Homo sapiens: one gene and its partners. The protein of the gene in region 1 purifies or fractionates together with the protein of each later gene. This does not show direct contact. Each region holds a gene or a part of one and is shown in the gene's direction. Other genes may lie near its edges. The genes, in order: REG4, ATE1, KLHL26 and HTRA1.

Region 1 (7,023 bases):
GTAAGTTATAATATTAATTTGGCAAGTTTATTGTGAAGGGCAGAGATAATGTGTTTGAAACACCTGTTGCCTAGCAGATTGTCAATAAGTCATAGCCATAATTAGAATTCCCCAATGCTTATGCACTGGTTTATCATTTTGAGCATTATTAGGGATTCCAGTTTGCAAGGTACCTACAATCTAGTTAGAGAGATGGCGCTTATACATTTATAGATCACACATCAAGTGCAAAGTAACATGGCAACAAAGTGGGTAGCAATATTGTAGAATCCACCAATAGAGAAAGCAGGGGAGGAACAGTGTACGAGTGAGCTAAGAAGAAATGTCACAGAATACCAGAAATGGAAGGAAATGAAATGTGATCTCATCTGGTGTAATGTCTTTGTTCTATTTACAAGGAAAATGAATTCCAGAAAAGGGTAGAGATTTGCCCAATGTCACACAGTAAGATTAAGTGATGCTTGGGCTTCTAGTGCCTTTCACAGTCCCATGTGGCTTTGCTGGGTGTTGGACATGTAAGAGTGAGTGAAGAATCCATACTTGAGCATTGCCTCTGTTGAGAAGAGGGCTTCCAGAGGGGACCAGTGCTATCTGTTACTTAGTACTGCTACTGCTGGGGAATGCCCTTGGCCAAGGGTAGGACGGTTTGGAAGGACATACTAAGAGAAGCAAGGTTCTTTGGGCATCATTTTGGCCCCTATGGCTGCAGTCTGCGGTCCTGGTCATAGTTATCCCTAATATGTCTTTCATGGCTCTTTGTCTTCAACCCTACACCAGTTCACTGAACTATCGCAGGCTGCTCAGGACCTGTGGAACTCAGCCATGCAAAGGAAACCATGCAAGAGAGTGCAAGGCTCTGGGGGGCTGCTCTTGAGCCCCTCCTGCAGAGCTGCCTTCTGTGGCCATTTCTATGTGGCCAGGTGGTTCCCTGCCACTCTTGTTCTGTGCTGACTTCAGACCTACTTAGTGAAACTTGAAATTTGCCCAAGCTATATCCTGGGGAATGTGATACAACCATCTTCCTATCCCTGGGATCTCACTAAACTCTCTGGCTTCTCTCCTGAGGAGGAGATGCAGACACAAGATTCACTACAGGTCCTTCAATTTCTCTCTTCCAGATAGATCTTCCTTCCAGCTGCAGAAGGACATTCTACTTATTCTTACTATCTTGGGGGAACCTCCCTTATGACATATCCTAAATGTTCTTTGCACTGCTGTACTTAAGAGAAATAGAGGGGACTTAGAAATTAATTTTCTCTCTCAATGAGACCTTGTAGTGAATATTAAACTCTTATTGCTTCCACAGTGAGTTCTTTGTCCTGATACCTGCCCTTCACCTGAAGCAATTCATGGCATTGATTCAGTGAGTGGAGAGACATAGAGCAACATCATTTATGGACACTAAAAAACTTCATCTGGCTTATCTTTTCAAAACTATTACATAATAATGATGATGGGTTTTAATAGCTTCAGGTTTTAACTAGCTACTATTTGTCGAACAATTCCTATACACTAGGCTCTGTGCTAATCACTGTACGTGAATTATCTTAATTAATCTTCCCAACAACTGTGTGAAGAAGGCATATATTGTTGATCCCACTGTACAGACAAGAAAAGTAAAGCTGAAAGAGATTAAATCATGTTCCTAAGGTCATACATGTAATAAGTGAGGGAGTAGAACGAGTATTGGAGTAGTCCAGGCAAGATGCTAGAAGCTGAAACCTCTTGATACTGCATGTGTAGAGATGACGAGCTCTAGCACCATGTGAGGTGGGGTCAAGGTTCTAAGGCCACCATGGAAACATTGGCTTCTCTCCCAGTTTCCACCACACTCCCCATCTGGGTAACCTCAGCAGGTTACTCGCCCCTGTGAGGAGGTTCTCTTCTCTGTACAATGGAAATGGTTATCCACACCTATCTCTCAGGGAGGCTCTGGTAATTAAACAAAATAATCTCAACGAATGTGCTTGACCCATGTAGGATTTAAAGCAATAACTTGAGCATCATTACTAAGATGACTAAGACTTGGAGTCAGACTGTCTGTCTGGGGTCAAATCTTACCTTTATCATTTATTTGCTGTAGGATCCTGGGACACGATGTCTTCTTTCTGCCTTTGTTTCTTCATCTGGAACGTAGGAATAATGACAGGGTTATTATGAAGATGATTAGAATATATGTAAACGGCCTGGACCTGCATCGGGTACATAGTAAATGCTCAATAAATGTGTGGAGTAAAGCCGGGTGCGGTGGCTCAGGCCTGTAATCCCAGAACTTTGAGACACCAAGGCGGGTAGATCACTTGAGCCCAGAAGTTCCAGATCAGCCTGGGCAATGTGGCGAAACTCTGTCTGTCTCTACTAAAAAAAAAGTACAAAAAACTAGCCTGGTACAGTGGTGCTCGCCTGTAGTCCCAGCTACTCAGGAGGCTGAGGTGGGAGGATCACCTGAGCCCGGGAAGTCGAGGCTGCAGTGAGCCGAGATGGCGCCGCTGCCCTCCAGCCTGGGCGATGGGAGTGGGGTAGTGCAAGGCAGAGCCATAGCGCAGCAGAGCGGCCGTTGGTTGCATATCTAGGAGCTAAAATGTCTCCACCAAGGAGCTCACGGCCACAGCCGCAACTTGCAGAGTGTGGGGCAGAGGGGAGGGGAGAGAGATGAAGTGAGGAAGGAGGAGGGGGAGAAAAAGAATGAGAGTCAGGGAACAGACAGTCATAGGCAAGGAGGAACACACATAGGCACAGAGAGAAAAGAGAGAGTACAAAGACAGGGAGAGAACGGAGAGATACATAGAAAGTCAAAGACAGAGATGCACAAACAGAGAGATGGTAAGACAGAGAGCAGCACTCAGAGAAACACAAAGAGAGACAGAGAAAGGGGAGAAAGAGAAGAGAGAGAGTCATGATTGTCTGGGCTCCGGCGTGGTCTTCCAAGTCCTCTGCGTGTGTCCCTCGGCCCTCTGCTTTCATGGCTTGGATCCAGGGGAAACAAAGACCGTGGTGGTAGAGGGTCTGTCCTAACATGTTTGCTCACGGAAGGCCAAGGACAGTTGCTTCAGAGTGCACAAGACCAAACCAGGAGCACCAGGTGTGATGCCAGGGGTCTTTGTCCTCGGGCCAAAGGTCAGAAATTTGGGTTCCTCTTTGCCACCTCTTTCAGAACAGTCTCACTGGTATTACATTGGAAGGCATGTTTTCGCAGCTGTCCCTTTCTGAAATTTAAGCCCATGTCATTATCTGCCCTCTGGTAATCAATGGCCAGCCTTCTCTTAAGAAGATCAATTTTTACGTAAAGTGCAAGGATTTCTTTTCCTCCTGAGAAAATAATCAAGGCAGCCCAATTAATTATTTCTGTTGCTAAGTTTTGAATTTCTCGTTTTTATAAAGGTTGGGAGGGTTGGTGGCAGTAACATAGATTTTTAAATCATAGAGAACTGGATCTGCAAAGCAGCTTTTCCATCTTACTGTGTGACCGTGGGCAGATGACCATCCTGAGCCTGTTTCCTCACCTCCTCAAGCAATTATGATAAAAATGCCATATGGATAAAACACCTAACATGGTGCCTGGCATCAAGAAAGCACCTTGCAGGGTGAGGGGCAGAAAGGGGAGGGGAGAGAGATAGAAAAGTGAGGAAGGAGGAGGGGGAGAAAAAAGAATGAGAGCAGAAAACAGTCACAGACAAGGAGGGACACACAGAAACACAGAGACAAAAGAGACCGAGATGTAGACAGAGTGCAAAGACAGGTAGAGAACAGAGAGATGATAGAAAGTCAAGCACCTTATTTACAAAAGCTAGTGACAGTGGTACTAGTAGTAACGGCAATGGCATAAAGGCTGTGTTTTATTTATCATAAAATTATGTTCATGTTTATGAATGTAGTAGAAGATGAAGCATTTAAATACATGAATATCTTTGCTGTTTGTTTGTAGTATATTTGACATACTCACTGAAACATTTCCTGCCTTGCCGTAGTTAGGTTGGTCATTATTCATTATTCATAGGTACAAGGAATAGCACATACAAAGGATCTAAAGCTACACTGAGCATTCGTGTTCCAAGACGGAGCTGGGACTATGGCATAGAAGGATGTGGCTGGATAGGGGCATACAACCAGGTTATAAAATCTCTTACATGCTAGACGAGCAGAGAGCTCATCTGAAAGCAATGGGGAGCCCTGGGAGATGCATAGGCAGGGGCTGAAATAAAACAGAAGAGTGGGGCAAACAAGCGACAGTAGTATCATTTGAATGAGGAGAGAGAAAATGCTGTTATGACAGCTGCAGTCTGTGGACCTCCCTTATGGAAGGAAACACTTTTCACCCACCATGGTGTCAGAAGGTAGCCACATAGTCACAAAGCCTACACTTGCTAGCTTGACATCCCCTTGATCACCTGATGCCTCTGTACATCCAGCCATCTCCCCCTCTTTATAAACCTTCAGATTCAGTGACATGGCACATTCACCAATGGACTAGCAGGAAAAGCATGTGCCTCCCTGAATCATGGATTCCTTTGCTTCTAGGCCCTGGCTCTTTCCTATTTCTGCCATGGTTGCCTGACAGACACCCTGTACTTAAGGCAGACTTAAGTGCTTGCTGTTTCTATCCTTCCCCACACATTCCTGCCTCCTTTGCCTAAAATGTTCCCTCCCCCAGTACTGACACATAGCCCACCTATGCTCAAGTTCCAGTCAAGTTGCCATGTAACCCTTCCCTTGTCTCCCAAGCCAAAGTGACTCCTCCCTCCTTGGAATGCTCCAAACTACCAATTTGTGTCCCTCATCCACTCTTGTGATGCCTTAAATTATAGTTATTTGACCTTCACTGCTAATACAAGATTCTGCCAGCTGCTGAGAATCTATTCCAATTATGAGTGTCTATCTAGTCCAATTATGTATGTATGTATATTCCAATTATGCATTCCAGAACTGGGGAGATAACCACAGCATGGGTTCAGGGGACCCACTGGACTCACTGGACCCACTGTGAGGCAGATCAAGCTAAAACTCCATTGATCACCTGACTTCCATAACCCCTACTCTGACTGGTGGACCGCAGTGACGTTTTCTTGGAATTAATGTCTGTTCAGAGGCAGTGTCCAGTAATCGCAGAAACACAGTCACACTGGTAAAAGGCCATAGGTCCCTTTGGGAAAAGCCAGAAGAAGGGTAAGCTGTATACATTTTTGGCAGTGTAGCAGGACCCTTCATGAAGGGACTCTCTTCATTCAAGGGGTTCCTGATTGCAAACTGTATCAAGTCTGGGAATTGATTGTTTTTGCTATCATAATGTGCAATTGCCTTTTGTTTATGTGCAGATATCATCATGAGACCCAGCTGTGCTCCTGGATGGTTTTACCACAAGTCCAATTGCTATGGTTACTTCAGGAAGCTGAGGAACTGGTCTGATGCCGAGGTAAGAAACTTGCTGCCTGCTTGGCCTGGCCTTTCTAGAGCAAAGGACCAGCCAGAGCCCCAGATCTCATTTGATTCAGGATCAAGTGTCCTTCCTGGGCACTATGAAGAGAAGCCCCTTTGGCTGGTGAAATGGAGAGAAGAGGGTTGTGTGTTCAACTCATTCAATTCTGTAAGCATTGCTGAAGCAGGTGCTGTATGCCAGACCCTAGATGGGCTACAAGCACATACGGATACATAGGAAAGAGCCCCTACCCTCAGCAAGCTCACTGTCAGTAAAGGAGACAGAAATACATCAATCAAAGGAGGAAGAGAAGATGAGGAATTCACAGAAAGGATAATGGAGTTTCTGTACAAGATTTACCAGAAAGAGAGTGGTGTGTAGACATGCCTGGAGCAGACACCTTGGAGCCGCTGACAGAAGGTGAAGCAGTCCAAGAAAATGTGGAAACTTTTCCGCTGCTCTACACAGTCCACAAACCTGTCCATTTTATTTCGTTGAAGCTTTGTCTGAGAGATAACCAAATAGACAGTCAAAGTAAGTTATCTCAGCCACATATGGGGAGTGGATGCTGCTGAATTGTGATTAATTGGGGGAGCCATATAGGTACATTTGGCATGATCTGGGCCTATGCGGTCTTACAATCCCTGTATAAAACTAGACAATGAAAAACAGAAAACAAAACAAACAAACAAAAAAACAAGAACGAAGCACCTACCACATGCCAGCTACTGAGGCTATGAAGGTATTCTCCCGCCTTAGAAAGCCCAGGATTAATGCAGGATTGCGACATTTAAACAGAACATTTCCATACAGCATGAGTATAAATGACTTTCCCAAGTTTACACTGAGAGTAACTGACACAGCAACCCCAGCAAAGTCTGAGCTGAGTCCTGAATAATTGTATAAAAAGGGGAGAGAAACAGAGTGAAGAAAGGGTTTCCCAGACTCTGTCCCAGGAAAGAAAATGAGCTCGTGGAGAGGAATAGACTTTCTCTATGAAAACAGAGGGAACAAAGAGGAAGATGTCTGGGAACCGAGGAGTAATAGAGACCTGAGTTTACATCACTACTCTGCCACTCCCTAGGTACCTCCCTTTACCTGTTTCCCTACTGGAAAGTGGGATAATACTTTTTACCTCATGGACTTGTCAGGAGGATTCATTAAAACGACTCGCATAAAGCCTATGCCACATGGTAGATGCCAATTCAGGGTCTCAAGAAAGAACAGCCCACAGGATTGACACTGAACCTTAACAAAGTTAACAGGACCAAGGTGCAGAGAGGGTGCTAGGACAGCGAAGCCAAAGAGGACCCCTCAAACCCAACAAGAGCTGTGCGGCTCCCTGATTCCTCGCCAGTGTTGCTACCGCCCTTGGCTCTTCTTGCATGGCTGGCTCTTGAGACCCCTGGAAGCTGATGGAGGCAACGTGAGAAGCACATGGACATCCGACCTTGAGCTTGAGAGGCAGAGGCCTGAGTTCTAGTTACAGCCCCAGCAGTACCAGTTGTGTGGACTGGGAGGGAGGCTATCACGTACATACTTCAAGCCTCCAAACCTGTTTCCCCTTCTGACACAGGATCTTCTGTGGCTGGTATAGAGTGGGCACTCAA
Region 2 (7,023 bases), on another chromosome or scaffold:
TATAAATCAGGAGAACTAATAAGCACAAAACATTTTGCTAAGTTTTCTGAAGAGACCAGCATGTTAAATCATTGGGGATATTTATTAAAGTTTGAAGGTCTGATGCAGTCTGATTGCAGTGAGGACTTAAATTTATGCTGTCATAGAGACTATTGACTAATCCTCAAATAAATATAATTAACTTCGATGTGTTTTTTTGAATGAAAATATATATAGTGTCATTCTTTATTTGTGCTGTGTGTATGCCCAACTAACAGCTGTGAAGTATGTACAAACTTTTCATTTATCCAATATGAGTGTTTTGGAATTTTAACCTAAACACTCCTATTTTTTTTTTTTTTTTTGAGATGGAGTCTCACTCTGTCGCCAGGGCTGGAGTGCAGTGGCGTGATCTTGGCTCACTGCAACCTCCGCCTCCCGAGTTCATGTGATTCTCCTGCTGCAGCCTCTTGAGTAGCTGGGATTACAGGCGCCCGCCACTATGCCCAGCTAAATTTTTGTATTTTTAGTAGAGATGGGGTTTCACCATGTTGGCCAGGCTGGTCTTGAACTCCTGACCTTGTGATTTGCCCGCCTTGGCCTCCCAGAGTGCTGGGATTACAGGCATGAGCCACCGTGCCCGGACACACACTCCTATTTTTAAACCTCACACTTTGAATTTAAAAAAGAAAAAAGGTTACCCTGCCGTAATTAACACACTACTTATTTTTTCAGGCATGTGGGCACATTCCATGACAGTACAGGATTATCAGGATCTCATAGACCGAGGATGGCGAAGGTAAAGCTTCCAGATACAAAGAGACTTCCTACTGTTACTCAGGTTCTTGAAAAATACAGCATGCCTTTGAAATGCTTTCCTGTTGGAAAGAGGTTTAAGAAAAATTTTTATTATATTCTTTTATGTAGTGATTTTTTGTCTCCTTTTTAAAAAACTTTGTTAGGAAAATGTCAAATATCTATAAAAGCAGAGAGTACATTAGAATGAACCTCAAGTACCTATCACTAAGCTTCAGCAGTTATTAACGTTCTGCCAATCATGTTTGATTCTCCTGCTCCACCTTTTAATATTTAACAGCAAATTACATCAGTAGGTTATTATGACATTTATCCTATCAATAGATAGGCAATAAGTATGTATCTCTAAGAGAGAGGTCTTTTTTTCTTTTTAACTTATCCACAATGCTGTATCACACCTTACAAAATTAATAAAAATTCTTTGATGTTACCTGTTACCTACTTTTTATTAGATTTTCCAGATTGTCTCAAAAATGTCTTCTTTAACAGTTTATTTGGATAAGGATTTCCTTAAAGTCCACACATGGCCTGTTTTGAGTAGTTATTTTTATGTGGATGATTTTTAAGTAACTCTTAGGTAAAGTTCCTTGTGTAAATATAAGTAATATTAAATACTGTACGCTAATACTTGCCAAAGACGTGGGATTGGGAGCACCAGCTGAAATATCACAACTTTCCTTAAACTTAATGAGATTCAAAAGGTAGACATAGGTCAGATTTTAAAGGACTTCACATGCCATGATAAGGAACTTTTTTTTTTAGAGACATGGTCTCGCTCTGTTGCCCAGGCTAGAGTCGCTCTCTTGCCCAGGCTAGAGTACAGTGCCATCATCATAGCTCACTGTAACCCCAAATTCCCACACTCAAGTGATCCTCTTGCCTCAGCCTCTGCAGTGGCTAGGACTACAGGTGTGCATCACAACACCTGGCTAATTTTTCAGTTTTTTGTAAGATCTTGGCTATGTTGCCCGTGCTGGTCTCGAACATCTGGTTGCAAGTGTTCTTCCAGCTTAGCTTTTCAAAGTGTTGGGATTATAGGTATGAACCACCATGCCTGGCCAGAACTTTTTAGAAGGCAGTCATGGAAGGATTTTATGGTAAGAGAGAAATGTGAAGGAATTTGTTTTAGAAAAGATTGTTCAGATGGCTGAGAGGTATTTGAGGGGGGGTCATAGAGGCAGGAAGATGAGTTCAAAGGTTATTGCGCTATCCAGATGTGCGATGATGAGGACTGTCACCTTAGTGGCAATGGTGATAGAGAAGAGGGGACAATTTAGGATAGGGTTTAAAATGAAGGAAAGCTTGCTAATAGGATATAGAGGTGAATTCCAGGGAGGAGTTTAAAATGACTCCCAGGTCTCTGACTTGAGAACAGAATGAACAGTTCTGTTAGTACCATAGACCTGGAATGCATGGAAAGAAGCGGGTTAGTTTTGGGGTACTCCGTGCTGGTGCATGTGGAATACCCAAGTGTGGTTGTCACAGGCATCACATACATGAGTCCCACAGCATCGTGGGCATTTCTCTCATTGCCCTTGTGGTATTGGGGATTGGTGGCAGGTGAAGGCAGAGCAGGGGTGGCAGATGCTGGTGAGAGGGGAACTGAGATGATTGGCCGTGGGGTACACAAGTAAAGCTTTAGGAAATAAAAGGCAGGGTTCTAAACTTTGCTACACGCACTTTGAAGATTATTTGGCTTATGAAGAGTAATTAAACCTACATGCATTTCTACAATGTTGATTAGATTTTTAACCTTAATTTAATGCTCCTGTGCTAGGCTGTTTTGGTGCAAGTGAAAAATATATAAGACATTAACAAACTATTTTTATAATTTTAGAAGTGGAAAATATGTGTACAAACCTGTCATGAATCAAACATGTTGTCCTCAGTACACAATAAGGTAAGAATTTTAATTAGTAGAAAGAGGATTTATAGTATGAAGATTGTGTATAATATTTTAGTAGTCTCTTGTGCTTTTTTAATGTTTATTTCCGCTCTAGGTAGATGTCCTTTAAAAGGAAAAGTAAATGAGTTATGTCTTTTCTTCATACTGATGCTGTATTTATGTGCTGATCAGTAGGTTTTAGTAATATTGTTTGATTGGTTCAGATATAAATATGTGAAAAAAATACCCTCTTAATTTAGCAATCTTGTCAATGAATGCCATGAAATATTGGGAAAATGTTGGTAAATATTCACATTACTTTTGGATATTAAATATTATAGGACTTAGCTTAGAATTTTCTGCATTCTGGTGTATTGCTTGACACAGTGCTTGTGTTCAAGCAATGCTACAGGCTCCTATAAATTACTTGGTAGGTTCACGTTCTCATGTTGTGGGATTCAGGAGGACAAGAGAGACCTCGGGTTAAAACAGGAGAAACTTTATTGAGTGCACTTAGGCCCAGCTGACTCAACGTCTAAAAGACTGGGCCCGGAACAAAGACTTTTATACACAGTTCACAGAAGGGGGTGGGCTAGCTTGAAGCAAGCTTACAGTGGCGTGAAAGCAGGGATACAGAGGCAGGACAAACTCAGGATTGCACATGACCGTTGCCAAGCAACCCAGATGTCCGTTATCTAGGTTTGCCTGGGCTTATCCCATAATCTTCACTATGGTGCCCAGGCAGCTGCAGTTCAGGCCTACTCAGGCTTCTCATGACATTCATTGTACTTCTCAGATAAAACAATACTTGAAGTCACTAGTTACAGAGAACAGGAATCTATGAACTCATTCCGTAAAACAAAGGAAAATTTATTTTTTCTTCTCTGCATGTTGAGTGCTGGGAGAATCTCCAGAGCACACTAGATAATATTATCAAGGCTTTTCCTGGGTCTGGGCCGTGCCTGTTGCTGCCTCTGGGACAAGTCGGCCTAATACAGGAAAGCTTATTTATCTTTCTTTTTAATTTTATTTTTCTTTAATTTCCCACCTCACTCACTTATAAGTGGGAGCTAAACCTTGGGTACTCAGACATAAAGATGGCAAAAGTAGAAGCTGGAGACTACTAGAGGAGGAGGGAGGGCGTGAGCTAAGGGTTGAAAAACCAACTTGGTATGACGATCAGTACCTGGGTGGTGGGATCATCCATATTGCAAACCTCAGCATCATGCAATATATCCAGGTCACCAGCCTGTACCTATACCCCCTGAATCTAAAATAAAAGTTGAAAAAAAAATTAATTGGAAGGAAGAGGGCTTAAATTTAATCTGCCACTTACACTTAGAGTCCAGTTTTTTTTTTTTTTTTTTAAAGAGACGGAGTCTCGCACTGTCGCCTGGGCTGGAGTGCAATGGCGCGATCTCGGCTCACTGCAACCTCTGCCTCCTGGGTTCAAGTGATTCTCCTGCCTCAGCCTCCCGAGTAGCTGGGATTACAGGTGCCTGCCACCACGCCCGGCTAATTTTTTGTATTTTTAGTAGAGATGGGGTTTCACTATGTTGGCCAGGCTGGTCTTGAACTCCTGACCTCATGATCCACCTGCCTCAGCCTCCCAAAGTGCTGATATTACAGGCGTGAGCCACTGCACCTGGCCCAGAGTCCAGTTTTCTTAAATGGGAAACTTAAACCAAAGTCTATTTTCCTACAAAGTCTTCGTTGGATTTTTTCATAATCTTTTGGATTTTCCATGTACCTTCTCACCTCACCCTAACATAGAAAAATCTTCTCTCTTATTCTGGTTATAAGGTCATCATCATCTTTTTCTTCTTTTTTCTTTTTTTTTTTGAGACAGGGTCTTGCTCAGGCTGGAATGCAGTAGCACAACCATGGCTCACTGCAGCCTGCCTGCCAGGCTCAAGTAATCCTCCCACCTCAGCCTCCCAAGTAGCTGGGACTGTAGGTACACACCACCAGGCCTGGCAAATTACATTTTTTTTTATAGAAAAGGGGTCTTGCCATGTTTCCTAGGCAGATCTCACCATGTTTCCTAGGCTGATCTCGCCATGTTTCCTAGGCTGATCTCCAACTTCTAGGCTCAAAGGAGCCTCCTGCCTCAGCCTCCCAAAGTGCTGGGATTATAGGTGTGAGCTACTACTGCACCTGAACCTTTTTTTTTGATAGAAAATGTGAAAAGTGCGTTAACATTTTGAAGCATGTATTTGCCCCCAATTTCAATGTGTATATATACTCATAAAATTAAAAGACAGTTTTACTTTAAGAAATGAAAAATTAAAAAATTAAACAGTTTTTTGTCCATTAGTTTTTTTGTTTGGTCCTCAAAGCTGTCTCCCTTGGTTGCTCTTAACTTGTTTTTGGGTTGCAAACCATTTTGAGAAGTCGATGAGAGCTGGCCTCCTGCCCAAAGGGATGTAGACAAAAATATGTAACATTTTGCATATCCTCCCCACCGAGACTGAGTCTTGCTGTGTCACCCAGGCTGGAGTGCAGTGGTGTGATCTCAGCTCACTGCAGTGTCCGCCTCCTGGGTTCTAGCAGTGCTCTTGCCTTAGCCACCTGAGTATCCGGGACTACAGATGCCCACCGCTAGGCCTGGTTAATTTTTGTGTTTTTAGTAGAGACGGGGTTTCACCATGTTGGCCGCGCTACTCTCGAACTCGTGATCTACCCACCTCAAAGTGCTGGGATTTCAGGCGTGAGCCACCATGCCCAGCACATTTTGCGTGTTAATTTTAGAATGATCGCAGACTCCCAAAGGTTCACTGATACTTGATTAGGAGCTTTTTTTTTGAGATGGAGTCTTGCTGTCGCCCAGGCTGGAGTGCAGTGGTGCTATCTCGGCTCACTGCAACCTCTGCCTCCCGTGTTCAAGCGATTCTCCTGCCTCAGCCTCCCGACTAGCTGGGATTACAGGCGTGCACCACCACACCTGGCTAATTTTTTTGATATTTTTAGTAGAGATGGGTTTCACCATGTTGGCCAAGCTGGTCTCGAACTCCTGACCTCAGGTGATCTGCCCGCTTCAGCCCCCCAAAGTGCTGGTGTATCTGGAGTTGGTTCCTTCTGGTGGGTTCTTGGTCTCGCTCACTTCAAGAATGAAGCCGCAGACCTTCGCAGTGAGTGTTACAGCTCTTAAATGTGACGCAGACCCAAAGAATGAGCAGCAGCAAGATTTATTGTGAAGTGTGAAAGAACAAACCTTCCACAGTGTGGAAGGGGACCCTAGTGGGTTGCCACTGCTGGGTAGGGTGGCCAGCTTTTATTCCCTTATTTGTCCCTGCCCATGTCCTGCTGATTGGTCCATTTTACAGAGTGCTGATTGGTCCATTTTATAGAGTGCTGATTGGTCCATTTTATAGAGTGCTGATTGGTCCATTTTACAAACCTCTAGCCACAGAGCACTGATTGGTGCGTTTTACAATCCTCTAGCTAGCTACAGAGCGCCGATTGGGGCGTTTTACAATCCTAGCTACAGAGAGCTGATTGGTGCATTTTACAATCCTCTTGTAAGAAAAGTTCTTCACGTCCCCCCCACCCCCGCCCCGACCCAGAAGTCCAGCTGGCCGTTGGATTGGCAGAGGATGAGAAAAATGGGGTCTGGTTTGCTGACACTGTGTCATTACACAAAGAATAGAATGACAGAGTATCCTGTGCTGTCCTCTTTCAGTTTTCGTGGTTATAAAGAGAAGGTATCTTCTAAGGCAGAAGTCATTTGTCTTCAATTAGCAATTTATTGGATTATGGACAGGATTCTATTCATAAGTTTGAAGTTGATTGGCTTAATCTGTGATCAGAAAAGGGTGATTTCGATTGGTTAAAGAAAAAAGAATCTAAATTGTATTTGGTGCCTGTTACATGGAAAGCACTATTCTAAGCATATTGCCTTTATAAAAGGGGATTCATTAACATTGCAAAATAAAGTAGTTATGTGATTTTTGCATTTTACGTGGCATCAAATGTTTCCTGAATTGCGTCTCTTTGTAATTCATTATACATCATCTTTTTTTTTTTTTTTTGAGACAGAATCTTGTTTAGTCTCCCAGGCTGGAGTGCAGTGGCGCGATCTCTGCTCACTGAAACCTCCGCCTCCCAGGTTCAAGTGATTCTTCTGCCTCAGCCTCCTGAGTAGCTGGGACTACAGGCGCATGCCACCATGCCCTGCTAATTTTTGTATTTTTAGTAGAGACGGGGTTTCACCATATTGGCCAGGTTGGTCTGGAACTCCTGACCTCATGATCCGCCTGCCTTGGCCTCCCAAAGTGCTGGGATTACAGGCGTTGAGCCACTGGGCCCAGCCACATCATCTTTTTATGGAGTCATTTTCCATA
Region 3 (7,881 bases), on another chromosome or scaffold:
ACCATGTTAGCCACGATGGTCTCGATCTCCTGACCTCGTGATCTGCCCGCCTCGGCCTCTCAAAGTGCTGGGATTACAGGCGTGAGCCACCACGCCCGGCCAATTTTGTATTTTTATTAGAGATGAGGTTTCTCCATGTTGGTCAGGCTGGTCTCAAACTCCCGACCTCAGGTGATCCGCCCGCCTTGGCCTCCCAAAGTGCTGGGATTACAGGCGTAAGCCACCGCACCTGGCCAAGACCCTGTCTTTTAAGAAAATGGATAAATAAAACATAAAAAAAGAAGGTAGCCAGTCGAGGTGGCTCGTGCCTGTAATCCCAGTACTTTGGGAGGCCGAAGTGGGCGGATCACCTGAGGTTGGGAGTTTGAGACCAGCCTGGCCAACATGATGAAATGCTGTCTCTGCTAAAAATACAAAAATCAGCCAGGCCTGGTGGTGGGCAACTGTAATTCCAGAGACTTGGGAGGGTGAGGCAGGAGAATCGCTTGAACCCGGGAGGTGGAGGTTGCAGTGATATGAGATCGCGCCACTGCACTCCAGCCTGGGCGACAGAGTGAGACTCTGTCTCAAAAAAACAAAACAAAACAAAAACAACAACAAAAATTTAAATAAATAAATAAAACATAAAAAAAGAAGGTGGGGCCAGTGCAGACATGACTTCAAGGAGGTGCGGGAGGCTGCTGGCTGGGGTAACAGAGAGAGATCATGGTGTTTGTCAGCAAGCCTCACTCATGATCCTGAAAGGATGTGCCGCCTCCATTAAAAAAAAATTTAGGGCCAGGCGCAGTGGCTCACGCCTGTAATCCCAACACTTTGGGAGGCTGAGGTGGGTGAATCGTCTGAGTCAGGAATCCAAGACCAGCCTGGCCAACATGGTGAAACCCTGTCTCTACTAAAAATACAAAAATTAGCCAGGCGTGGTAGTGCATGCCTGTAATCCCGGCTACTTGGGAGGCTGAGGCAGGAGAATTGCTTGAACCTCGGAGGCGGAGGTTGCGGTGAGCCAAGATTGTGCCATTACACTCCAGCCTGGTGACAGAGCGAGACTCTGTCTCAAAAAAAAAAAAAAAAGGTAAAACACAGAGTTTGTTAGATAGGAGAAAAATCAAACAGGACTGAGGACAGGGAGTTGATGTCGGGGGACCTTGGGCTTGCCCCAGGACCACTCCGTGGTGACTGCCTGATGGGGCAGACACTGTCCCCAGCCTAAAACCACAGGAACTTGAAGCCCTCCCCCAAGGCTTCACTTTCCTCCTCCATAACACCTGGGGATTGTAAGGGAGGCCTCCAAGCTCTGACCTGAGGGTGTGAGCCCTGCAGCTGGTCTGAAGTGGGAGAGCAGGTGGCGCGGGCCCTGCCTCTAGGAGAGCCGTGCCAGCTGTGGGCCAGATGGTGGCCAGGCCCGTGGATGCTGCCTGCTATGTCCCTGCCTGCCGGCTCTGCTAGACCACAGGTCATCATTACTGGATGAGGCGTGTGCAGTCACCGGCGTGGGCCCTCCAGGTCCTCCACTTGTCTCTGCTCCATGCCAGTGATAGTGGCCTCTAGAGCTCAGGCCAACAGCTCTGGCAGAGGTCACTGGCCTCACTCTGCCTCACTCGACATCCCATCTGTTCCATCTCTTTTTGGTCCCACCTGCAAAGTGCATCTCAACTAGGACTACCTCCCACCCCTCCATGTCTGTCACCCTGGGATGAGCCCTACCCATTTTTCCCTGGATTATATGCCTCCTGACTCATGTCCCAAATTCAAGATATTGTCCCCCAGTTGTCAGACACTGTTGAACAGTCAGACACTGTAACACTGTTAAATTGACACTGTTAAAACCAATGTCAGCTGGGTGCAGTGGTTCACGCTATAATCCTGGCACTTTGGGAGGCTGAGGCGGGCAGATCACTTGAGGTCAGGAGTTCGAGACCAGCCTGGCCAACATGGTGAAACCCCGTCTCTAATAAAAATACAAAAATTATGCTGGGCACAGTGGTTCACTCCTGTAATCCCAGCACTTTGGGAGGCCAAGGCAGGTGGATCACTTGAGGTCAGGAGTTTGAGACCAGCCTGTCCAACATGGTGAAACCATCTCAACTAAAAATACAAAAATTGGCTGGGCGTGGTGGCACATGCCTGTAGTCCCAGCTACTCGGGAGGCTGAGGCAGGAGAATCACTTGAACCTGGGAGGCGAAGATTGCAGTGAGCTGAGATTGTGCCACGGCACTCCAGCCTGGGTGACAGAGTGAGACTCCATCTCAAAAAAAAAAAAAAAATTAGCCAGGCATGTGGTACATGCCTGTAGTCCCAGCTACTCAGGAGGCTGAGGCAGGAGAATGGCTTGAACCCAGGAGGCGGAGGTTGCAGTGAGCTGAGATCGCACCACTGCACTCCAGGGTGGGCCACAGAGCAAGACTCCGTCTCAAAAACAAAACAAAACAAAACAAAACAAAAACCCAGTGTCAATTACATTGCCACTGCTTACAAGCCCCCTCTCCCTTCTCATTTCATGCAGAGGACCCCAAAAATGATCCCCAAAGCCCTCTGTGACCTGAAGCACCTCCTGTTGCCTCCCACCCATTCTCCTCCCCTCTCCTCTCCCTCTTCCTAATTTTTCTCTGCCAGGCCACTCTCTAGGCACGCTCCTGCCCCAGGGACATTGCACTGGCTGCCCTGTGCTATGTGATCGTGGAGGACAGATCACACAGTGTGTCCAAAGTGCAGTGAGTCTACAGCACACTATGTGTGTGTGCACAGCCAGGAGCCCAGAGAACCTCTTCTTTCTTATCTTCAGCTGTGTGTCTTGTGTGTCTGACATATGGGTCAAATCTGGATGTTTATGAAGTGTGCGTGCATATGGACACCATTGATTTCAAATGTTATTTGTGGCGGGTGTGTCAGCTGTAGGTCGCTGCTGAGTGAGGTTTGATGCCTGCATGTGGTTCGTCTGGAACAAAGACTCCTGGGGCGGTGCTGACTTAGGGCAGGCAAGGGTGTGTGTGTGTGTGTGCAGAGCTTGCCGGAACGTGAGCTGTTCATGCACGCGTGCATTCAACATTTGCAGAGTGCTTACTGTGTATTGGAGATGCCAGCAGTTCCCTTCAGCACTTGGTATCTGTCAGCTTGCACAGGGTCATCTGAGAGCATTTTGTGTAACGATTGAGCACGTATTGTTGTATCAGGCCCTCTGTTGGAGATGCTGGTTGAGTGCGGTCCAACCTGCAGGAGTCCACTCAAGCAGGCCCCTTCCTTCCTCCTATGGGGTCTCCAGCCCCATAGCCACCTCCTTCTTCCAGCACTGACGGGAAAGAAGGCTTTGAGCTCCTTCTGGATCACTGCTTTCTGCCCAAGACTGCACAAGTCAGAGTTTTCTGACTTGGAGGTTAAAAGAATAAATGAGCTCCAAGCTACAGAGGGGATCCTGGGAGCCTGGAGCTTACCAGAGATGGGGGGTGAGGGGTGCCCCCAAAAGGTCTAGATGCTTCATAGACGCCTATAGATGCAGGACTTTGAGCCCTGGCTGAGGGTCAGTGTGTTGGGAGGGCTGGTGCTTGGGGATCTGAGGGTGTTGGGTCCGGTGGAATGGACTTTGGGAGTGTAAGGTTTGAAGGATCTGTGGGCAGGGATTTGGGGGAGTGGGAGATGAGTTTTGAGTAGAGAATGGGAGATAATTGGATGTGCAGGGTTTTAGAGTATGAGAAACCAGAATTGGTGTATGAAGCAGGTGGTGGGAACCTAAGGCCAGATGATTGGGGTCTCAGGGTGGAGGCTCTGAAGAGGGTATGTCAGGGGAGGGTGGGGAACCATGAGGGGCTGGAAGTCTGAGGCCTGGGCATGGGTGAGTTTCGCCCCTGAGAGAGGCCTGGGAAGGAGGTAAGACTGGAGTCGGGGTGTGCAGGGTGGGGAGAGGGAGGGTGTGGTTCTCAGAGCTTAGAGACCCATTTCTCCATGCTCCATCTCACCCTCCCTCCCACCCTACCTATAACTCACTTCCCTGTGGCTCCAACGCCTCAAAGTATAACCACGCCCAGCCAACGCCCGGGGCACGCCTGCCAGCGCCCCAGGGCACTCACAGACACTCCTTAACACCTGCACGTGCCCCGCCCCTCCTCAGATCCGCCGCTCACTTAGCCCGGCCCCACCCCCATCAGATGAGGCTCCGCCCCCCCGGCCCCGCCAATCCCTCGCCCCCTCCACGCACACACCCCTGATCTTCCCCGCCCTCCTTCCAACCAGACTCCACCCCTCGCCCAGGCCCCGCCCTTCCTCAGACCAGGCCCTCTCTTCGCTTGACCACATCCATCCCCAGATTCCTCCTCTCTCCTGCCCAGACCCGCCCAACCTCAGACCCATCTTCTCCTTTCTACCTCCCCGACCACTCCCCCACCGCATTCCTAACCTCCACCTTGTCCCTTCTCACACCTGGCCCCGCCCTTTATCCTGCGCCCCGCCTCCTCCGCAGGCCGGACCCTTGTCCCTCCTCCTCTTGCCCTGGGCCTGCCCCTTCTTCAGACCCCGCCCCACTCCTCAGCCCAGGGACCAACCCCATCCTGCGCCTACTTGTCCTGCTTCGCCCCGTCCCCACCTATCCACAGACAATACGCCCTCTCAGCCCAGAACCGCTTCCCTTTCAGACTTGGTTCCGCCCCTCACGCCAGGGTCCCGCCCCAATCCGGCACCCCTAGCCCAGGCCCCGCCCTGGACCCACCTCTCTGCATAGCAGGCCCCTCCCTTTATCCCAGACCCGCCCCGGCCCTCCGTAGACCACGCCCCTCCGATTCCGGGCCCGCCCCAATCCTTGGTTTCTGGTCCCGGCCCCGCCCCTCCGCAGACCTGGCCCCGCCCCGCCCCCCGCGTCTCGGTTTCCCGGGCCTGCGCGCGCGGCTCCCGTCACTCGAACGCGCGACGGCGGGGGGAAGATGGCGGAGTCCGGCGGTAGCAGCGGTGGTGCTGGTGGCGGCGGCGCTTTCGGCGCGGGCCCGGGCCCCGAGCGCCCGAACAGGTGAGACCCGGCCCGCAGGATAGACCTGCACCTGTCTTGGAGCCCAGGAAACCTGTGGGCAGTCTTGGGCGTCCTGAGGGGTTGAGGGGAGGCCTGGCACGGCTCGAGGGTCTTTCGCTGAGAATTTGGACTTTACGGGGCCGTGGGGTACTGGAGGAGCCGAGGGCTACTGAGGGGGTGGCTGGAGGGGGGCTGGGTGCCCCAGGACCTCGAGGCGTCTGCAGGCGGCCCTAGGGACCTGAGAATCCTGGGGGTCTGAAGGGAAACCGAGGGGCTCTTGACTGTGGTGGGCCGTGGGGCAACTGGGGATGCCAAAGGGCCTGGGCAGCAGAGAGGGCCTGAGCAGGGGCCATGCCATGGCCAGTCTGAGGGTGGTGAGGTGTCTTGGGGGCTCTGAGGAAGGGGCTAAGGCCCAAGGCATCCTGGGAGGTGCTGAAGGGCCCCAAGGTGGCTAAAGGTGGTCCTGAGAGCGTGCTGAGGGGCGCTGGAAGGAGTAGAGACTGTGGGAGGCTCTGGGTGGGGGACTTAGGTGAATCTGGGAGTCTGAGATGGGGAGGCTGAGGGGGCCTGGGGTGGGTCTAGGGAACCTGAGGGGGGTGAGAGAACTCCAGGGGGTTTATAAAGAACATACAGAGGGTTCTTCTTTGGGGCTCCTCCCTTCCATCCCCATGGGGTCCAAATCCACATCCCCAACAGGCTAAAGGACTTACAGAAAGGTCTTGCCCTCAGACAAGGGGACAGAATTCACCCCTTTGGTCAGAGGGAGGCCCCCTTTCCCCATGGCCCAGTCCTGACATGGATTGCTTGAACGTCCAGGTTTGCATGACAATTAGTTATCATCAATAACTAATGATATGTGTGTGCATGCATTGTATTGGATTGTCAGAGGGAAAGAACACCTGCCTTAGGAGTGTGATCTCCTGCTCTTTTCCTATTGGGCAAAGCCAGACCCTCCCACCCCAGCTCCTCCTCTAGCCCAGCACCCAGGTCAGGCCAAGGAGGAAATTCAGGCTTTTTCTTGCTGGTGAGCTTCCAGGAGCCAGTAATTTCAGGCAACATGATAAATGATGAAGTTGTTTGATACTTACGTGCTGTGGAGTTTTGGACCTGTGGGCTGATTGTTGGAGGGAATGGCCTGATGGCCTGGCTGTGTGATTTGGTACTGAATGGAACACGCATGGGATGGGTGGGGAAGGGAGGAGGGATGGCTGGGCCAGGGCACAGAGGAGGCAAAGGCCCTGCCTGTTCCTGAGGATGCTGAGTGGCACCTTGAGACTTAGGTCTGTGGGCATTGAATCTGGTCTGCCAGAGGGGCCATGGGGAACCCAGGAGGTGTGTGTCCAGAGGGGTGACCAGCCTCCTGGGGTAGGTGTGGGGCAAGATTGTCCTGCAGTAGGGAGCCAGGAGATGTCAGAGGATTTTCAGAGATATTCAGGGAGTGGCCAGGGCTTGAAAATTGGGTATCAGTTGGCAAGTAAGGGACAGGGAAGAGGGACAGTGAACCCCAGGTCCCTGCCTTGGGCACTGGAGTGGGATAACCTGGGGCTAGGGCTTTTTTTATTTTTATTTTTTTGAAACCCCGTCTCGCTCTGTCACCCAGGTATCTAGGCTGGAGTGCAGTGACGCCACCAAGGCTCACCGCAGCCTCAAACTCCTGGACTCAAGTGATCCTCCCACCTCAGCCTCCTGAGTAGCTGGGACTACAGGTGTGCACCACCACACTTGGCTAATTTTTAAATTTTTTGTAAAGACCAGGTCTTGCTCTGTTGCCAGGCTGGTCTCAAACTCTTGGGCTCAAGCAATCTTCTTGCCTCACCCCTCACTAAGTGCTGAGATTACAGATGTGAGCCACCATGCTGGGCATGGCTCTTTTTTTATAAACAGCTTTATCAAGATATAATTAATTGCATGGCATACAATTCACTCATTTTGTTTTTATTTATTTATTTATTTTTTGAGACAGAATCTTGCTCTGTCACCCAGGCTGGAGTGCAGTGGCGCAATCTCGGCTCACTGCAACCTCTGCCTTCCAGGTTCAAGGGATTTTCCTGCCTCAGCCTCCTGAGTAGCTGGGACTACAGGTGCCCGCCACCATGCCTGGCTAATTTTTGTATTTTTTAAGTAGAGACAGGGTTTCACTGTTGGCCAGGCAGGTCTGGCATTCCTGAGCTCAGGTGATCCACCCGCCTCGGCCTCCCAAAGTGCTGGGATTACAGGCGTGAACTACTGCACCCAGCCAATTCACTCATTTTAATTTATCATTAAGTTTTTTTTTTTTTTTTTTTTTTTTTTGAGATAGAGTTACTCTGTTGCCCAGGCTGGAGTGCAGTAGTGTGATCTCGGCTCACTGCAACCTTTGCCTCCTGGGTTCAAGCAATTCTCCTGCCTCAGCCTCCCGAGTAGCTGAGACCACAGGTGCATGCTACCATGCCCAGCTAATTTTTGTATTTTTAGTAGAGACGGGGTTTTGCCATGTTGGCCAGGGTGATCTTGAACTGCTGACCTCAAGTGATCTGCCCGCTTCAGCCTCCCAAAGTGCTGGGATTACAGGTGTGAACCACTGTGCTCAACCCAGGTCATTAAGTTTCAGTACATTTACTGAGTTGTGCATCCTTCACCACAATCCAGTTTTTTGGAATGCTTCCATCACCCCAAAGAGTTCCCCCAAGCTCGTCTGCAATTAACCCTGCTCCACCAACATACAGCCCCGGGGACATCCTGATCTGCTTTCACTCTCTGTAGCTTTGCCTTTTCTAGAAATTTCGTAAGAATGGAATCAGACATGTGGCCTTTACGTCTGGTTTCTTTCCTTAACATAATGTTTTTGAAGTTCATCTGTGTTGTTGTATCAGAAATTTGTTCTTTTTCACTGTGGAGTGAAAATAAACAA
Region 4 (7,023 bases), on another chromosome or scaffold:
AATGGAGGCTGCTCAGTGGACTGAGGCTGGAACTGGGCCTTCCAGTGGCCAGGCCAGATCCTCCTTGATCTCCCTTGTTGCTTTCCTGGTGGGAAGACCCTGGAACCACTTTATGTGACTGTGTGAGAAGGGAACTGCCTCTCATTTTACCCAGCAAAATCCACCTTCAATCCATCTTCATTTTTGCCCCTGGTGTGGGCAAATTCTCCCATACCTAATTCAGGAAGCCAGAAAGAGGAAGTGAGTTAATGATCCTTAGTGGGAAGGCGCTGGTAATGGTCCTTCTTGTGAGAGTTTCTGAAACACCACGCTGTCTCTGTGTTCTGGCCTGGCTGGAGTTAAACCTCTTCTTGGCCTTTCCCCAGGAAGCTGGTCTGAGGAAGCCCAGATGCGTTTGTTTACAGCTGTCTGGTGACATTCGCCAGGCTCTGTTTTCAGAAGGAACATTTCCATTCCCTTATTTACACCTCCCATTGGAGTGCTCGGGGGGACACACCAATTATTTGCAACTACCTGGAAACCTAGGAGGGTAGCAGATCTGTAGGAGGCCAGTGTTGAAGTGAGAAGCTGTAGATCTGGTGACACTGTGGGCTTGGGAGGGCTTGCCCAGATCTGTTACTTATACTCTCTATTAAGAAACTTCAGTGTCCATGGAGAAGTTATTTAAAGTCTGCGAGCCTCAGTTTCCCCATATATAATATGGGAAGGATACCTGATTTTCCTATTCCACATGAAGGTAGAAAAAATTAAATTAAGGCAGCCAATGAAAGGGTTTTGAAAGCAAAAATAATAATATGATACTGTTCTGAATTTGTTAAATTATTCTTCCAAGTAGTTGCAGATCTTTTTCTGTACCTTAGAAAAAAACCATGCTATGTAAAAGGAGATGATTCCAATCTTTAAATAAAGCAACTCAGAGGTCAGGGGCTAGGACAGAAAACGGCCCTTTGTTCACAGAAGCGCTCTCACTTCCAAGAAAGCAAGCGTGGGAGAGGCAGGTGGTCCTCCCGATGTCCCTGTGCCCCATGGTGTCAAGCTGGGTTACTATGGCCCTTCGTGACCCAGTGCAGCAGGGATGTGGGAACCAGTGGGTGTGAAGCTGTGACGGGTCACAAGAGGGCTGGGACGTCTCACAGCTTTTACTTATAGCCTAGAGCCTGGGGAAGGGTTGCCACTCTAGTGATGAGAGAGGCGTGTGTGTGTGTGTGTGTATGCGTCTGTATGTATGTGTGCATTTGCATGTATATATGTGTGACTGTATGTATGTGCACATCTGTGAGTATATGAATGTGTGTGGAAGTGTGTATAGGTGTTTATGTGACAGTTTGTGTGTAAATGTGGGTGTATGTGTGGGTGTGTTTATGCATGTACATCTGTGGGTGTGTATGCATAGTGTGTATGTGTGAGTTTGTGTGTGTGTGTGCATTTGCATCTCTGTGTATATATGCATGTGTGTTAGGGGCAGGCACACAGGCCTGTTGGTAAATGAGACACAAAATACCTACAAAATACAAAATGTGAGACAGGAAATACAAGCCCCAGTTACTCATTTTTCAGTGCAACAGACATAAGATTACCATGTGAAATTGCTATGAAAGTTTCCGAAAGCTTCCTGTCAATTCGTAGTGAGCAGCTAGCAGAGGAGTGCGGGTCCCTGGAGCCTGCTTGTGCAACGCTGAGCTAGTCCAAGGGGGAAGAATGGGGTGCATGGCTCTCAGCTGCAGACCAGCCTGGAACCTCTCCAGCCTGCTTTAGCAGAGACTTGTTAAGAGGTAGCAGCAGGTGGCAAGATTAGGAGCCGGAGTAGTAGGCTAAGGCTGCACTTCCAGGGACACACTGCCTCTGCCACCACCCGTGCCACGAAAATGGGAGCCCAGGACCCTGAATCTCTAGCAGTCCGTTTCTGAATCAGTTACCTTGGGTATGTGCCTCTGGTTGATGGAAACTAACTTGTAGCCCTGCTGGGTGAGAGCCTCACATCGGGACATGTGACAGCTTTGTTGAAAGTAGCTTTGGAAACGCCCACCACGTGGGGCCACTCACTGTAATATAAACGGTCATGCATCACTGAGCAACAGGGATACGTTCTGAGAAATGCGTCGTTAGGCGATTTCATCACTGTGGGAATGTTACAGAGTGTGCCTACGCAAACCTAGATGGCAGAGCCCACTCCACACCTAGGCCAGATGGCAGAGCCTGTTGTTTCTAGGATGCACGCCCGTACAGTAGGTTACTGTACTGAATACTGTAGGCAGTTGTAACAATGGTGAGTATTTGTGTATTCAAACATAGAAAAGGTATAGTAAAAACAATGGTGTTATGGTCCGCGGCTGGCTGAAACGTTATGTGGTGCATGACTGTAGGTATAAAGCATTACAGTTGTTTGATTTTTCTCTTTTTCTCACCCACAGTCTTAAGGCACCTCTTATGCCTTTTGTCTGGGATGTCCCGGGCAGGGTTGGAACGTGTGGTTAAGGCATGGCGGAAACTGCTTTGGGGACAGACGATGGCCTCAGCTTGCCTTGGGGTGTCAGTGGGAAAGATAGGAGCTGCCCCTTTGCCTTCGTGTTTCTTCGTAATAATCTCAGATGTACCCGTCTGGTGGGCCTCTCCTAGAAAAAGCCCCGGTGCTCTTTGCTCCTGCGGTGTTTCTCAGGAGGGTTGTTGCTTCTTTGTAATGGTGGGGACTCAGGGAAGGGACGCAGGCAGAGGGTGATGCCACATCAAAAAGGGACCCTTGGCTGGGTGTGGTGGCTTACGCCTGTAATCCTAGCACTTTGGGAGGCCGAGGCAGGTGGATCACCTGAGGTCAGGAGTTCGAGACCAGCCTGGCCAACGTGGTGAAACCCGGTCCCTAGTAAAAATACAAAAATACAAAGGTGGTGGGTGCCTGTAATCCCAGTTACTCAGTAGGCTGAGGCAGAAGAATCGCTTGAACCGGAGAGGTGGAGGTTGTGATGAGCCAAGATTGCGCCATTGCACTCCAGCCTGGGTGACAGAGTGCGACTCCATCTAAAAATAAACTGAAAAAAAACAAAAAACAAACTTGGGCCATCAGCTTCTTGGAAAGGCTGGTGTGAGGTTGAAGCATTTGCTGGTGCCTCTGCTCAACGTTTTTGTGGTGAACCTGAGCAAAGAGGTTATCATTAGTGGATTTTACTGCCTTACCTGGGTGGGCACTCCCTTGGGAGGTGGATGGACATTTGCAGCTGAGCCCAGGTGGGGGAATTGCGCTCACTCCGCCTTCAGAATTCCAAAGGCTGGGCATGCATCTTGGCTTCCTCTAACCCATGTCTTTCTCTAGGTGGCCACAGCAGAGTGTCATTAAGTATCTATTCTTTGCTTTTGTTCTCAGGGCAGGAAGATCCCAACAGTTTGCGCCATAAATATAACTTTATCGCGGACGTGGTGGAGAAGATCGCCCCTGCCGTGGTTCATATCGAATTGTTTCGCAAGTAAAGAGAGCCTTCCTTTTTCCTATAACCTCCGAAGCTTTCACCGCCACTAGCAAAACATGAGAGCTATTTTTGAGATACATTAAAGTGTCAAAGTGTCACTGAATATCTTCCTACTTAAGATAAGTGTGTCTCCCTTAGAACATTTTCCCTATTCGACTATATAAATCTACATTCTTGACCCTTCTGAATGTTTAAAGAACCTCGGGCTCTGAAGAGATTCTCTAAGAATATTTTGTAAGTGGAAGTTTTTGATGCATGCAAAAAATTGGCAGGATGTTTAGTGTTTAAATGCTAAGCCCGATATATAAAGGAGCGATGGCTAGGTGTGTGTGGCTGTTGCACAACCCATTAATCAATGCGTTGAAGCGTTCATTTTAAGGTGCTACAGGCTTAAGTGTGTACTCCTTTGGATTTTAGGCTTCCGTTTTCTAAACGAGAGGTGCCGGTGGCTAGTGGGTCTGGGTTTATTGTGTCGGAAGATGGACTGATCGTGACAAATGCCCACGTGGTGACCAACAAGCACCGGGTCAAAGTTGAGCTGAAGAACGGTGCCACTTACGAAGCCAAAATCAAGGATGTGGATGAGAAAGCAGACATCGCACTCATCAAAATTGACCACCAGGTAAGGGTGTTCTCGCCTGCAGAGGTGAGTTCTCAGATGCCCCGGAACACCCTTGGCAAAGGCACCAGAGCTCTCTGATTGCAGCTGATTCTCGGGGGGCACTGAAGCCAGTCTGAGCCAGTCACAGGAGGGCCTTGAGGAGATGCTGAGTATGGCCTGGGGGTGTGGGAGAGGAAGGGGCTCAGGAAAACTTCTGTAAGGAGCCAGATAAAAGTTTTTAAAATAATGTTTTAAATGTTTGTCAAAGAAAGCAATAGATTTGTAAAGAAATTAGTAGGTAAGTAGTGAAAATTGATTCTCCTTCCCATTCCCAATCCTGTGGCAACTCTTGTTACAGATTTTATTTATCCTCCACAGATACATCATGCGTTCACAATGAACATAGAATTTACTGGGTTTTAGACTGAGCCATCCTTAACTTGTCAACAGTTACTTTGAAAACAAACCAGCTCTCCCAAATTGGGGTTTTGCGGGGTTATGAGATGTGTTTCAAAAGAATGTTTCGTACTTTAAACATCTTGGAAAACTTGAATTAAAACAGAGCTAATGGATTTCTTCTTTCCAGACCTTCTCAGAGCTTTTAGTATGCTAGTGTGCACGTGGCTTGCCTACAAAAGGGTGTTGACTGAACTATTTGCCCAAATTATAATCATTTGAGTATACAGCTTTTTGTGGGGGCAGGCAGAACTGAGACATACCAAAATCAGTTTGGGAAATGCTGTATTTGAAAATGCTTTCTATTTAAATATTCTCTTTGCAATCATTTTTGCTCTGTTGATTTGCTTAGCAAAGTCTTCATGTCTGGGACAATATCCATTTCTTACTGACTCATCAAAAACCCCCACTCGACACGTCGATGAGAGAGGTTTTGTTTGCTGTGTGGCATGTTCAGTGAAAGCGTGGTTTCCAGTTTCTTCACATCCTTATAATTTTCTAGACTTCAGATGGAGGGAACAATCAGAGGAGGCTGGAATCCTGCCTCTGACCAAGGAAAAGACCAGAGGCTGAGCCAGGTGGGGTCTCTTGTCCAGCCCTCTGCTTGCCTCGCTTTACCTGGGTGTGGGCTGAGTAATTCCAGACAAGCGTGGAATTAATCTGGCTGTTTGTGCTGTTCAGTGGCACGCTGGTTACACCTCCTTCTGGAAACAACTCTGCGTGTGCTGTTTGGGTGGTAGGATTCCGGGTCTCCTTCTCCGTCTTTTTATAACATCAAGTTGCTGCCCAGCTCAGGCTCCTTTACGGCCAGTCTTCAGAAAACCACCAGCTAACACATTTACTACCCTCCTTCCCCGATGTTCCTGTAGCTTCTCTATGGCTGGGTGGCCAGGCATGGCCGAAGAGGCTCTGGGTAGATATAGGCTCTGTGCCCGGTGTGTGTAACTGGCCTTGAGTGAGGCTGCAGTTGTGTGTTATTTCTATTAGGTCACTGTGGAATTTCTAGCGACAACTAATCTTTCAAAGTGTGTTTATTGGTCACAGGATTATTGGGCCAGCCTCTGCCTTCATTCTTTTTCACCTAATCTGCATAATAGCTGTGTTATCCCCATTTTAGAGAAGAAGAAACAGGGGCTCAGAGAAGTCTAGTAACCTGTGTGAGGCCACACAGCAAACACCTCATGACCCTGCCCTCCTAAGGCAGCCCATGGCTACTGCTGGAGGGATAGAGGCCGGCCCCGTGGTTTGATGGGACAGCTTGACCTTAAACAGCCCATGGGAAGGCGGGTGCATCTGGTTTAGGAACAGGCTGCTAGAAAGGTATCCAGGATGTGGTAGTCTCACCGGAAGGAGCCAGTCAGAATAGCACAGCCTGTGGCCACGCGTGGGACCTGTTCAGCCTCATGGAGCTTTGGGAGGCAGCCAGCAGCAGGGCATGGGCTGTGTGCAGGCGAGGCGCTGGCCTGGACGCCGCCCCCACTGCGTAACTTCGTGTTTGGAATGCGTGGGCACATACCGTGCGGCTGCTTCTGGCCGGGGGATATTCTTTTCCAATTTTGAGCCAAGGTGGAGACTGTCTCCTCGTGCCATCCCTGGCATGTCCTGGCAAGACGTGAACGATCTCAATAGACGAGCTTTGCAGAGTGTGTCTGACCTGACTCCTGCTGTCTTGGGAGTTTAGCTCTTCAGCCAGCAGCATGCTGTTTGACATGTGTTTCAAGCCCCCCAAGAAAGGGTGCTTGAAATTTAAAATTGAACTGATGTGGCTTTTCAAAATGGAATTGGAAATGAAAGGATATTAAATTGCAGACACCCACACAAAAGACTGGTTTCCACTGACTAAACTGCTTTTTTTTGCTGATAGTAGTTGAAAGTAGGGAGAGTAACAGCATCTCTTCCAGCTTTTTCTCTTTTGTTCCCTTGTTTTGATGATGGGTTATTTCGGGGGAAGCTCTGGCTGGCCTTGCTTTGTGTCATCTTAGGGATAACAAAGAGGATGAAAGAGATCAGGAAAACCGAGAAGGCAGAACAGAACCAGCAGAAACTGTGCTTGAGGAATGAAAATCACCTACACGGCTCCTTGTCATATGAGACTGTGGCCCAGCCTCCTGCAAAGCCATTTAAGAGTAACCCAGTGAAGCTGGTGAGACTGCCTGCCGCGTCCGTGGGCCCAGTGACTAACTCGGTGGCTTATCATCTGGGCCCAGCTCCTCCCCTGGCATCCTGATTTCACTTGGAGGGGCCCCCGTTGTCCTTCATAAACATGTTTATTTCATTTTATTTTTATGTTTTGAGACAGAGTTTTACTGTTGCCCAGGCTGGAGTGCAGTGGCGCCATCTCCGCTCACTGCAACCTCCACCTCCAGGACTCAAGTGATTCTCCTGCCTCAGCCTCCTGAGTGGCTGGGACTACAGGCGTGCACCACCATGCCTGGCTACTTTTTGTATTTTTAGTAGAGACCGGGTTTTGCCATGTTGGCCAGGCTGGTCTCAAACTCCTGACCTCAG

Evidence for each region.
Region 2: the proteins of REG4 (region 1) and ATE1 purify together in Homo sapiens (affinity purification with mass spectrometry; 2 studies listed by BioGRID and IntAct, with this or other methods). This does not show direct contact.
Region 3: the proteins of REG4 (region 1) and KLHL26 purify together in Homo sapiens (affinity purification with mass spectrometry; 2 studies listed by BioGRID and IntAct, with this or other methods). This does not show direct contact.
Region 4: the proteins of REG4 (region 1) and HTRA1 purify together in Homo sapiens (affinity purification with mass spectrometry; 2 studies listed by BioGRID and IntAct, with this or other methods). This does not show direct contact.

What each region holds. Positions count from the first base shown.
Region 1 is NC_000001.11:119,801,455-119,808,477, reverse strand, and holds part of REG4 (regenerating islet-derived protein 4 isoform 1 precursor), read left to right. Parts: intron 1-5,312; coding exon 5,313-5,410; coding exon of another isoform or gene 5,411-5,650; exon of another isoform or gene 5,651-7,023. UniProt on the Homo sapiens protein: Calcium-independent lectin displaying mannose-binding specificity and able to maintain carbohydrate recognition activity in an acidic environment. May be involved in inflammatory and metaplastic responses of the gastrointestinal epithelium.
Region 2 is NC_000010.11:121,918,021-121,925,043, reverse strand, and holds part of ATE1 (arginyl-tRNA--protein transferase 1), read left to right. Parts: intron 1-714; coding exon 715-778; intron 779-2,632; coding exon 2,633-2,695; intron 2,696-7,023. UniProt on the Homo sapiens protein: Involved in the post-translational conjugation of arginine to the N-terminal aspartate or glutamate of a protein. This arginylation is required for degradation of the protein via the ubiquitin pathway. Does not arginylate cysteine residues.
Region 3 is NC_000019.10:18,632,147-18,640,027, forward strand, and holds the start of KLHL26 (kelch-like protein 26), read left to right. Parts: upstream 1-4,881; 5' UTR 4,882-4,908; coding exon 4,909-4,991; intron 4,992-7,881. UniProt on the Homo sapiens protein: May play a role in endo(sarco)plasmic reticulum (ER/SR) mitochondrial signaling. May be part of the ubiquitin-proteasome system (UPS) and affect ubiquitination and degradation of target substrates in cardiomyocytes.
Region 4 is NC_000010.11:122,485,547-122,492,569, forward strand, and holds part of HTRA1 (serine protease HTRA1 precursor), read left to right. Parts: intron 1-3,355; coding exon 3,356-3,455; intron 3,456-3,875; coding exon 3,876-4,080; intron 4,081-7,023. UniProt on the Homo sapiens protein: Serine protease with a variety of targets, including extracellular matrix proteins such as fibronectin. HTRA1-generated fibronectin fragments further induce synovial cells to up-regulate MMP1 and MMP3 production.